Linked DNA regions of Homo sapiens: region 1 is linked to region 2. The links come from fine-mapping of genetic effects on gene expression. A gene starts in region 2. The other region holds a variant in brackets. All regions are shown on one strand. Distances are between the middles of the regions. Region 1 has its middle 9.6 kb from the start of GJA3. Region 2 holds the start of GJB2 (gap junction protein beta 2).

The links. PIP is the estimated chance that this variant, and not a neighbour inherited with it, causes the effect.
Region 1: its variant is fine-mapped to the expression of GJB2 in monocytes (BLUEPRINT, PIP 0.95). The same link has a PIP of 0.9 or more in monocytes after LPS, monocytes after Pam3CSK4 and monocytes after R848.

What each region holds. Positions count from the first base shown.
Region 1 is chr13:20,168,151-20,173,234 of GRCh38, reverse strand. No RefSeq gene overlaps it. Among named protein-coding and RNA genes, the nearest start is that of GJA3, 9.6 kb to the right of the region's middle. The variant T/C (reference allele first, on the strand shown) is at 2,086.
Region 2 is chr13:20,189,829-20,194,828 of GRCh38, reverse strand. It overlaps GJB2 (gap junction protein beta 2), which reads left to right and starts at 1,891. Exons shown (of 2, transcript NM_004004.6): 1 at 1,891-2,046.

The sequences.
Region 1 (5,084 bases), 22 kb after region 2:
TTTTGAATCAGCTTGTTTTCTGTTGATACTGTTATTGTTCAGTTTTAGCAGTTCGCTATATATTCCAGATATTAATTCCTTATCAGATATGTGATTTGCAAATATTTTCTCCCATTCTGTGGATTGCTTTCTCACTCTCTTTAGTGTCCTTTGAAGCATAAAAGTTTTTGATTTTCATAAAATCCATTTGTCTATTTTTTCTTTTATTGCCTGTGGCTTTGGTGCCATAACCAGGAAATCATTTGCCAAATCCAAGTTTGTGAAGTTTTGCCCTTTGTTTTCTTCCACAAGTTGAATTATTTTGGGTCTAACATTGAGGTTTTTTACTCATTTTGAGTTTATTTTTGTATATGGTGGAAGATTAGGGTCCAACTTGATTGTTTTGCATGTGGATATCCAGCTTCCCCCACTATATGCTGAAAAACTGTCCTTTCCTCATTGAATGGTCTTGGCACCCTTGTGGAAGATGACCATACATGTAAGTGTTTATTTCTGGCCTCTGTGTTGTATTCCATTGGTCTATATGTCTGTCTTTATGCCAGTACTAAACTGTGTTGATTACTATCACTTTGTAGTATGTTTTGAAATCAGGAAGAGTGAGTCTTTAATTTTGTTCCTCCTTTTCAAGACTGTTTTGGCTATTTGGAGTCTCTTGGGATTCCACTTGAATTATAAAATGGATTTTTCACCCATTATCTTTTGCTTTTGGCCTTAGCTAGTGTTATGTCCCTTGTTTGGGCCTTCCTTTTCCACCTCAAATCATTCAAAATGCAGCTCAATTCCCACCTCCAATATTTCCCTGACTATCCCCACCATATTGATCTCCCTCCCCTGCGCCGCTGTTCACCTATCTCCTGCACCACCCATTGGAGACAGCATCCCACCAACTCTTCTCCCCTGTCCTTACCCTTCAAGCCTCAGCTGAAATGTCACTCATCCTAAAGCAGGGCTCTCTGTTGGGCTTTCTTGTAACATCTTTTCTATAAAGAACTCACCGTGATTAGTAATTAATTTACTTATAAGTTAATTCTTACACACACAGATTCTAAGACACACAATTCTTTCCCATTCTAACACCTGTGAAATAGAGAGCCGTGCTTTACAATTGGCGACATCCAACAATGACAGTCAGGCTTTTACTTCAGTGGTACATACATGGTGATATGTCTTATGATCAACCGTACTTTAGATGCAGTGAAACACAGTACATGTTTTCTTGTGCATTTACCTGTTTAATGCTCATCTTGTTGATTGTAAGTTGAGAGAGAATAGACCCCCAACTCAGCTCACCATCACACCCCAGCGCCTTTGGCATAGTTCATGTGCTTGTCAGCCATTTGATGGGTTGATGAATTATAAGTTCATCAATCATATTAATGAACTTATCAACATCAACTCATATTGATGGATTATAAGCTACTAAACACATTACGCTTTCCCAGGAGCCCCATAATTCCTAGAACAGTGCTACCTGCACTCAGATGCTTACCCAGTGCATATTTAAGCTAGATAACATCTATCACTCAGCTGCTCTGTGCTCTCTGGTAGAAATAAAAGGATTAATAATGCCTCATTCTTTTAGAGGAAGAAAGCCAAGTAAGTACTGTCGGAGAACCCAGTGGTTCCTGCTTTCTTTTCCTTGGCAAACAATAGGCCTGGCCTTTGTAAACTGAAATCTACACACTTCAAATATTTTATTTTGCTTTTGTGGCATCACACAGTGCCTTGGGGACATTACACAGGGGCCATATTAGAAAGTGATGTCAACTTTTTTTCAAGAGGGTTGGTGATCCTATCTGTTAAGAAAATGACACATTTCTACACTCTTAATAGCTGCTAACCATTTATAAACACATTGTCCCTACATATCAAATAAAACAAATCTTGGATAAGCAGGAAATTAAATTTGTCCTCTTGTGAGGGGACACTGAGTTCCTGGTCTGGGCTTGTCAAGGATGAAAACATGGAGGAGGCGCTTGGGCCAGATGAGCACAAGTTCTTCAGCACCTGCCCTGTGCTGACAAAGGGGCCCGCAGGGAGGCAAAAAGAAGCAAGAAGAGGCTTCATAGGAACCAGGTTGTTTCA[T/C]TTCTGTTTGTTTATTCTCTCCCAAACTCAAAAGAGGAGGCCTATTTTGCGGTTGATTCTTGCACCATTTGAGAAATTCACTCGTTATGTAAATGTTTCTATTCGTAGTAAGTAGCTTTTGCAAAGAAGGGGAAATAATGACATTAGTAGTGAAAGATTTTTTCCCTAATCTCTTGAGGATCAAAACCTGTGTAAATTACAATATAAATGTCACAGCAATGGCAAACTGCTATACAAGTTTCTAAGTAATAATAACGGGTGCCATTTTTTGAGCACCAACTATGCACCAGCACTGGTTTAGGCTACTTCATACACTGGGTCATGTTGATTCATCTTCGTAACAATCCTACGTAATCTCCATGTACATAAGCTCATGAAACGGGGGCAGTGTGGGCAAGCCACTTACCCCAGGGCAGAGAGCTAATAAGGGCAGACCAGTGATGGAAACTCAGACTTTCTCTCAATTGTCCTGAAGAAATAGGTGTATTCTACTTATCTAGCAACGGCTGCTGGTGGCAGGGAGTCTGCTGGCAGGAACTGGCTGGTCCTGCACCATCTCTGCTCATTCCTCCCATCACAAGGGGTAAGGGTGGGGAGGAAGGAAGAGTAAAAAGGACACTGTGGTGGTGGGGGCTGGTTACTGATGGAGAAGAGCCATCAGCGATGGGGACTGAGGGGAGGGAAAGAAGAAATGATACCCAGTCACTCGATTAATGACAGAGGTACGTTCTGAGAATTGTGTCATTAGCCAATTTTGTTATTGTGGGAACATCATAGGGTGTACCCACACAAACCAATGGAATAGCCTACTGCACACCTAAGCTGTGTGGTGTAGCCTATCGCTCCGAGGCCACAAACCTGTACAGCATGTGACTGTACTGATTACTGAAGGCAACTGTAACATAATGGTAAGAATTTGCATATCTAAACATACCAAAGGTATGGTAAAAATATGGCATTATAATCTTATGGTACCACCGTTGGATATGCAGTTCATCATTGACAGAAATGTCTTTATGACTGCATTAGGCAAAAGTGAAATTAAAAGGAAAGGATAGGAAAGACAAGTGAGAAGAAAATGTAGCCAGTAGAAGCCAAGAAAGAAAAGAGCAAAGGAGGAATCAAAAAGGTAATCCATGGCTAGGCATGGTGCCTCACGCCTGTAATCCCAGCACTTTGGGAGGCCAAGGCAGGAGGATCACTTGAGGCCAGAATTCAAGACCAGCCTGGCCAACATGCCCATTTCTATGAAAAATTTAACAATTAGCCAGGTGTGGTGGTGCACGCCTGTGGTCACAGCTACTTGAGAGGCTGGGGCAGGAGGATCACTTGAGCCTCGGAGGTTGAGACTGCAGTGAGCTGTGTTGGCACCATTGCACTCCAGCCTGCGTGGAAAAAAAAAAAAAAAGTAATCCATGAACAAATCCTGTTCAACCAACACCAAAAGCAGCAAAGCCTCCCAGGCTCAGTTCCTGGGTTCTGTGGCACCATCTCTCCGTCTGTCCTCCCTGTAGGACACAGGTATTTTAAGGAGCTGGAGAAGGGAGCCCAGGGCACATCTGTTCCTCCTCAGTCTTCTTCAGTCCCAGCCTCCCAAGAGTTCGCAGGGCTAGTCGCCTCACAGTGTCGCCCACCAGCTGACTCCAAGACGCACCCTTCCCTGCTGCACTTTACATGGATGGCTCGCTTAACAAATTTCCAGCATCCACCAGGTCCTCCAAAGGGTTTTATCTAACACTTCTAACATCCAGCCTTAATTTAATCTGAACTCTTCTTCCCTTCCAGGAAGTTACTTCCCATCACCTCATAGATGCATTTCCTGGCCACCTTCTCAGAGACACACTCCACAGACATCCCACCCACTACCTTTGGAAACCACCACATCCTGAAGCCACTTCTTGACAACTCTAGTTGGGTATATGTAATGGGTTTAAGCAAAAGCTGTTCTCCAGGAACTTCTGCCCACAGGTCATGGTTGTCCTTTTGGTGGACATACAAAGCCAGCCTAAACTTTTTGACACACACAAATATATACACACACATACATACACATATGACTGTGTTTACACACACACACACACAGCTGGTTAAGAGCAAGGGCTTGGGGCCGCAGATTCATATTAACATCCTGACCCTGCCCCATTCTAGCTGTGTGGCCTTCGGCAAGTTAATTAACCTTCCTGAGCCTCCGTTTCTTCATATGACCCTCACTGGGCTGCTGTGAGGATTAAGTGAGCTAATATATGTAAGTGTCTTGGCCCAGTGTCTGGCATGTAACCAGTACTCATTAAATGGACAGGGGTCTTCTCTGAGTCCTTTCTCTTAGGGAAATATTCCCACTCCCTTCAACCCCTCTTTATAGTTTGTGGTTTTTCAGTCCTCTCTGTATCCTTTTAAATGGGCCAGTCACCTTTTAAATGGGTGATGTTCCATTGTTTAAATAGATTGGATTTTTCACTGGACTCTGTCCAAAACTAAACACACTCCTGGAAACGTGGCTGGCACAGCAACAGTGGAGAGCCACCTCCTCGCTGTGGACACAACCGCCAGCGGTCAATCCGCTTCCCTCAACACCGTCATGTCCACACAGGGACCTGGGCTGCTGGATTCCTAATCAGTGACACTGAGCTTTTATATAACATCAAAGAGGGATTTGTGCTTATACTTCTTAAAAGGCATGTTTTTGTGGTTTGACTGTCCTCCTAGCCTGACACAGTCTGAGCCTCCTCAGGCGGCCTCAGGGGTTGGGATAGAGTGGAGAATTCAGGCAAGAATGCCAACCCTAGCTCCAGGCCTGGGACCCACAGGCCTGGGGAAAAGAGTGGTTGCCCCGTCTTGAGACAGCCGAAAACTGTGTCCCCAGGATTGTTGGTTTCATAAAAGCAAGTAGCTAGGGAGGCCACATTTACAGGGGATCACAGAACACTTGGGTAGGGGCTTGCTGTAGGTGTCATCAGGGAAGTGGGGGACGGCAGGAGGGATGTGGCCCAGTACGCAGA
Region 2 (5,000 bases):
TCAATGGGGGAAAGTCAGTCAACTTCCGATCTCCAAACCATCTTTACTAGCGAGCTTCCCACAATGGTTCTAGAACCTTCCTTCATTCCAACCCAACCAGGATTCCAACAGACTCATAAACACCACAGCCTTTGAGAAATTAAAGGGAGAACCCACCAACCGGCGCCCCACTCCCCACCCCAAGTCACCTCTGGCTCAACCAAGATGCGCTCAGGCCAAGAAAGCTGCCCCACCCCACAGGCTTTGCCTGTCATTTTTAACAAGCCGACTCAGCACATCTCTCAGATGGGCCATGCAAGGCTTTTCGCAGCTCCTGGGGCTTTGCCTCTTCATGAGCAGACACTCCCTCTTAGACTAAGACCTGGAGCTGGAAAGTAGGTGGTAACCGCGGTACAAAACTCACGCTCGTCCCTGCAGAAACTGCCTAGGTCGGCCCATGGCCACGGGGCGCCAATTTTTCAAGGAAAAGTCAATGCTAATAATGGTGGCAATCACGGGAAATCCATTCTGAGGCCAGATCTGACTTGTCAGGATTAATCATCATTTCCACTTAACTTCGAACTGACCTGGGTAAAAACGTGAGCGCGAGGGGACCAGGCTGCACCTCTGACCTGGCTCCCCTCTGCAAAAATCGCGAAGTGGGTGCCCGAGGTGGGGCGGGGGTTGGGGGAGACCTCCCCGGGAGTCCCCACCCAGCCTGCTCTGCACATCTTAGTCCCTCATCCGCTTGCGCTGTGCAAATCTGTCTTCTGTCATTTGTATCGCAAGACATCAAAATCCCCAACCAAATGCAAATACTGAGACCTCATAATCTGAGACAAAGTTTCACGGTATCCAGAAAGCCCCCAGCAGGTGTGCAGTGCAGAGCCAGCCCCCCAGCGGTCTTCCGCAGAATCCTATCAGTTTCCCCCTTTCGTGCTGTGTGCATCGAGCAGGAAGGGGCTTGGCAGGTTTTACCTGCCCTCTTTCCTTTCTGAAAAGTCTGGGCCTCCTCACCCCGAAAGGAGTCACCTCCTTGCAGTTCCCCAGTTGCGAAAAGAGGAGGAAGTTGGCTGGGCCGGGGGCCGCGGGGGGCACCCTCCGCAGATGGCGGGACCCCCCTGCCGGCCATGGCAAAAACGAGGCTTGTCTCTCCCACCGCCCCCAACCTTAGTCCTTGGCACATTGTTGAAAGTAATTGAATAAAATCGGAAATTCGAGAAGGCGTTCGTTCGGATTGGTGAGATTTTGAGGGGAGAAAGAAGCGGGGACTTCGCCGGCACCAGCGGCGCCCCCTCCTCGGCCACCGTTAACCCCCATTCCAGAGGGCACTGCCCCGCCACCCAGCCTAGGTCCCCCTGCGAGAGCCTCGCGGGCCCGCGCAGCCTCCGCGACTCGAACAGATCTTCAGTCCTTGGAGGAATGCCTGTTTCTCTAACAATAAAAAATTAAAGAAGCGCTCATAAATGCCAAGTCCTCTCGCACTATGCGGAGTACAGAGGACAACGACCACAGCCATCCCTGAACCCCGCCCACGGCACAGCGCCGGAGCCGGGGTCTGGGGCGCCGCTTCCTGGGGGGTCCCGACTCTCAGCCGCCCCCGCTTCACCCGGGCCGCCAAGGGGCTGGGGGAGGCGGCGCTCGGGGTAACCGGGGGAGACTCAGGGCGCTGGGGGCACTTGGGGAACTCATGGGGGCTCAAAGGAACTAGGAGATCGGGACCTCGAAGGGGACTTGGGGGGTTCGGGGCTTTCGGGGGCGGTCGGGGGTTCGCGGACCCGGGAAGCTCTGAGGACCCAGAGGCCGGGCGCGCTCCGCCCGCGGCGCCGCCCCCTCCGTAACTTTCCCAGTCTCCGAGGGAAGAGGCGGGGTGTGGGGTGCGGTTAAAAGGCGCCACGGCGGGAGACAGGTGTTGCGGCCCCGCAGCGCCCGCGCGCTCCTCTCCCCGACTCGGAGCCCCTCGGCGGCGCCCGGCCCAGGACCCGCCTAGGAGCGCAGGAGCCCCAGCGCAGAGACCCCAACGCCGAGACCCCCGCCCCGGCCCCGCCGCGCTTCCTCCCGACGCAGGTGAGCCCGCCGGCCCCGGACTGCCCGGCCAGGAACCTGGCGCGGGGAGGGACCGCGAGACCCAGAGCGGTTGCCCGGCCGCGTGGGTCTCGGGGAACCGGGGGGCTGGACCAACACACGTCCTTGGGCCGGGGGGCGGGGGCCGCCTTCTGGAGCGGGCGTTTCTGCGGCCGAGCTCCGGAGCTGGAATGGGGCGGCCGGGGAAGTGGACGCGATGGCACCGCCCGGGGTGCGAGTGGGGCCGGGCGCGCGCGGGAGGGGAAAAAGGCGCGGGCGAGCCGCCAGCGCGAGGTTTGTGGTGTCGCCGATGTCCCTTCGGGGTACTCTAGCGCAGCCGCCTGGCTACTTGACCCACTGCCACCAAACGTTTTAAATTCACCGAAAGCTTAGCTTCGAAGCAAAGCTCCGTTTCGCCGGTGAAGCAGGAAGCCTTCGCTGCAGGAACTGACCTTTACCTCTTGGAGCGGCTTCTGCAGAAAAATCCCCGGGCAGAGATTTGGGCGGAGTTTGCCTAGAACTAACGCGGAGCCAGCCGATCCCGGCCTACCCCGGGGCCAAGATTTCAGTGGCTTCCCTTTTTCCTAAACACTTCACGAGGGTCTGTTTCCGGGCTGTGCTCCCCGCCTAGAAGGAAAATTTTTAGGACCCTTGTTCGCGAAGAGGTGGTGTGCGGCTGAGACCCGCGTCCTCAGGACGGTTCCATCAGTGCCTCGATCCTGCCCCACTGGAGGAGGAAGGCAGCCCGAACAGCGCTCACCTAACTAACAGCTGCTGAGAGCTGGGTTCCGTGGCCATGCACCTGGGACTGCCTTGAGAAGCGTGGTACGGCCGTGTCCCCATGTGACCTTAGAGTCCCTTTCGAAACTGCTGTGCACAGTCGGTCACAATTTCAGACACTGGTGAGAAGGGTGGAGGAACCCTCTGGGGACAGCCAGGCAAGGTCGACCACCCATCACCTAAGGGTGGAGAAATTTAAGGGGTGAAGAGTCCCTTTTGCCTTTTCTGGATCCTGGTGATTCACCTAGTGTCTTCCCTAAGGAACTGAACCAACTCCTCCGCTGGCCTCTGGCAGCCCTCCAGGCGGTGCAGGATGGCGTGGGCCCGGTAGGAAGCTGCATGTAACCGCCCAGGGTCGGGAGGCCAGGAGGGCAGCTCCTCCTCTGACTTGAATATTGAAAACAACTTCGTCCTGCTTCTGAGCCCCTCTTAACCCATGACCCCCTAGCCCATTGGGGAGTAAATCTTAATTTACTCCTCTTCCTGAAAAAGGATCTTTAAAACAGGTAGCTTCAACTCAAGCTTTATAAAATAACAATATAGGGTTTCTCGGAACTGTATTTTTCTCAGCTGATGGTAACTGGACAGGTCTGTAGAAGGGTGTATGACCTGGGTTTGGCAGGTGGAAGAGGGCAAAGGATAAACCCCTCCTCCTGCAGCCCCATATTCTTGGCCAGGTGTATTGTTGTAAACCAGGAGAGAGTTTACTTCGGGGAGTATCCTGTTTTCCACTCAGTGAGGGCCAATGAAGAATGTCTAATTCCATAAGATGCTTTTGTTAAAATCGGAATGTTGCTGTCCTCGGTGGTTCTGCTGTTGGGACGGGACTGGCCTGAGCTGTGGGTGCTGTAGCAGGACAACCAGCTCACCTAAGGGCCTCCCAGTCTGGATTATCAATGGGTCAGTGCTGAACCTGGGCTAAAATATTGTTTTTTCCAATGATGTTGTCTTTCCCAAGCTCAGTGAAGCTAAATGTTTCACAGGCCTATGTCAATCTGATGTAACTTTCGTGGCCACCTCTCTCCTGTTAGCCTCTGACCAAGGTGGCACTGGATGGTTTCTGCCTGACCTTGGTGCCCCGTGGCAGCGACTGTGGGTCATGAAAGACATTCACTACGAGCCTGCTTCTGGAGTCCATCAGAAAACGGGATGCAACTTGCCTAAAATGAGGAGAGGAGGATGCTTTTAAGAAAAAGAAGAAGGAGGATTCACTACCAGCTCTGAAGGGTGGAAAAGAGATGATTCATCCGGATTGTGGAGAGGGTGGAATCTTGTTTAGGAGAGCGTTGGTTGTGGCAGGCAGGGTGTAACTATGAATCAGTGAAGACAATTCACATCCTGGGATGAAAAGAAGGCCATGGGCTCACAGGAGATTATCCACTGGCCTCTCCACATCCGCTTGCAGTAAGGAGTGTGGGACTCTCCCAAGCTTCAGCGCTGAACTGCAATGCAGTGACGTCGCTTAGCTGGGCCAGTAACCGAGGGAGTTGAATTTTCTGTCATTTTAAAATAATGTGTCTTTTAAGAAACACTTTGAAATTAAAACCACAGCCCACAATTATAATGCACTGTTGCAGCACTTATCAAAACAGATATGCTAACTGAGCCATCAGTGCCAGCCTGACAGTGAGGCCACCAAGCCATCCACAAAGCCTACACGAAAGTCTGTGCTCACAGTGGCTTTTCTCCATGAAGAGGGCATTCCTAACCTCTTCCTTTCACGTAGGAGGAAGCAAGGTCCTTTGTAAAATTTTAACTCGGGGTGCCTCAAATGTAAACTTAACCACTGGTAACAACAGTTTCACTGCTACATGCCACGTCTGTGAAAATTCATTCAAGACATTAAGGAAAGTGGCTCAGCAGAGAGACTAGACATCTTATCCTCACGGTTCTCCTGTACTTGGCCTCTCAGCCTTTGAGCAAGGTTGGCCCAAGCTAGTATCGGCCCCAGTGGTACAGCCAAAACTTGAGACTGCAAATGGATGCAGCTGTTGAACGCTGAGTAACTTCTGCAGAGTCAGGAAGACCCAAGGAAGCTCTGCAGAGGATGCAGGGGTACGGTCAGAACCCCTGAGTGCCTTTCAGCTAACGAGGACTTTATGACACTCCCCAGCACAGCAAATTTTTATGATGTGTTTAAAGATTGGGTGAATTACTCAGGTGAACAAGCTACTTTT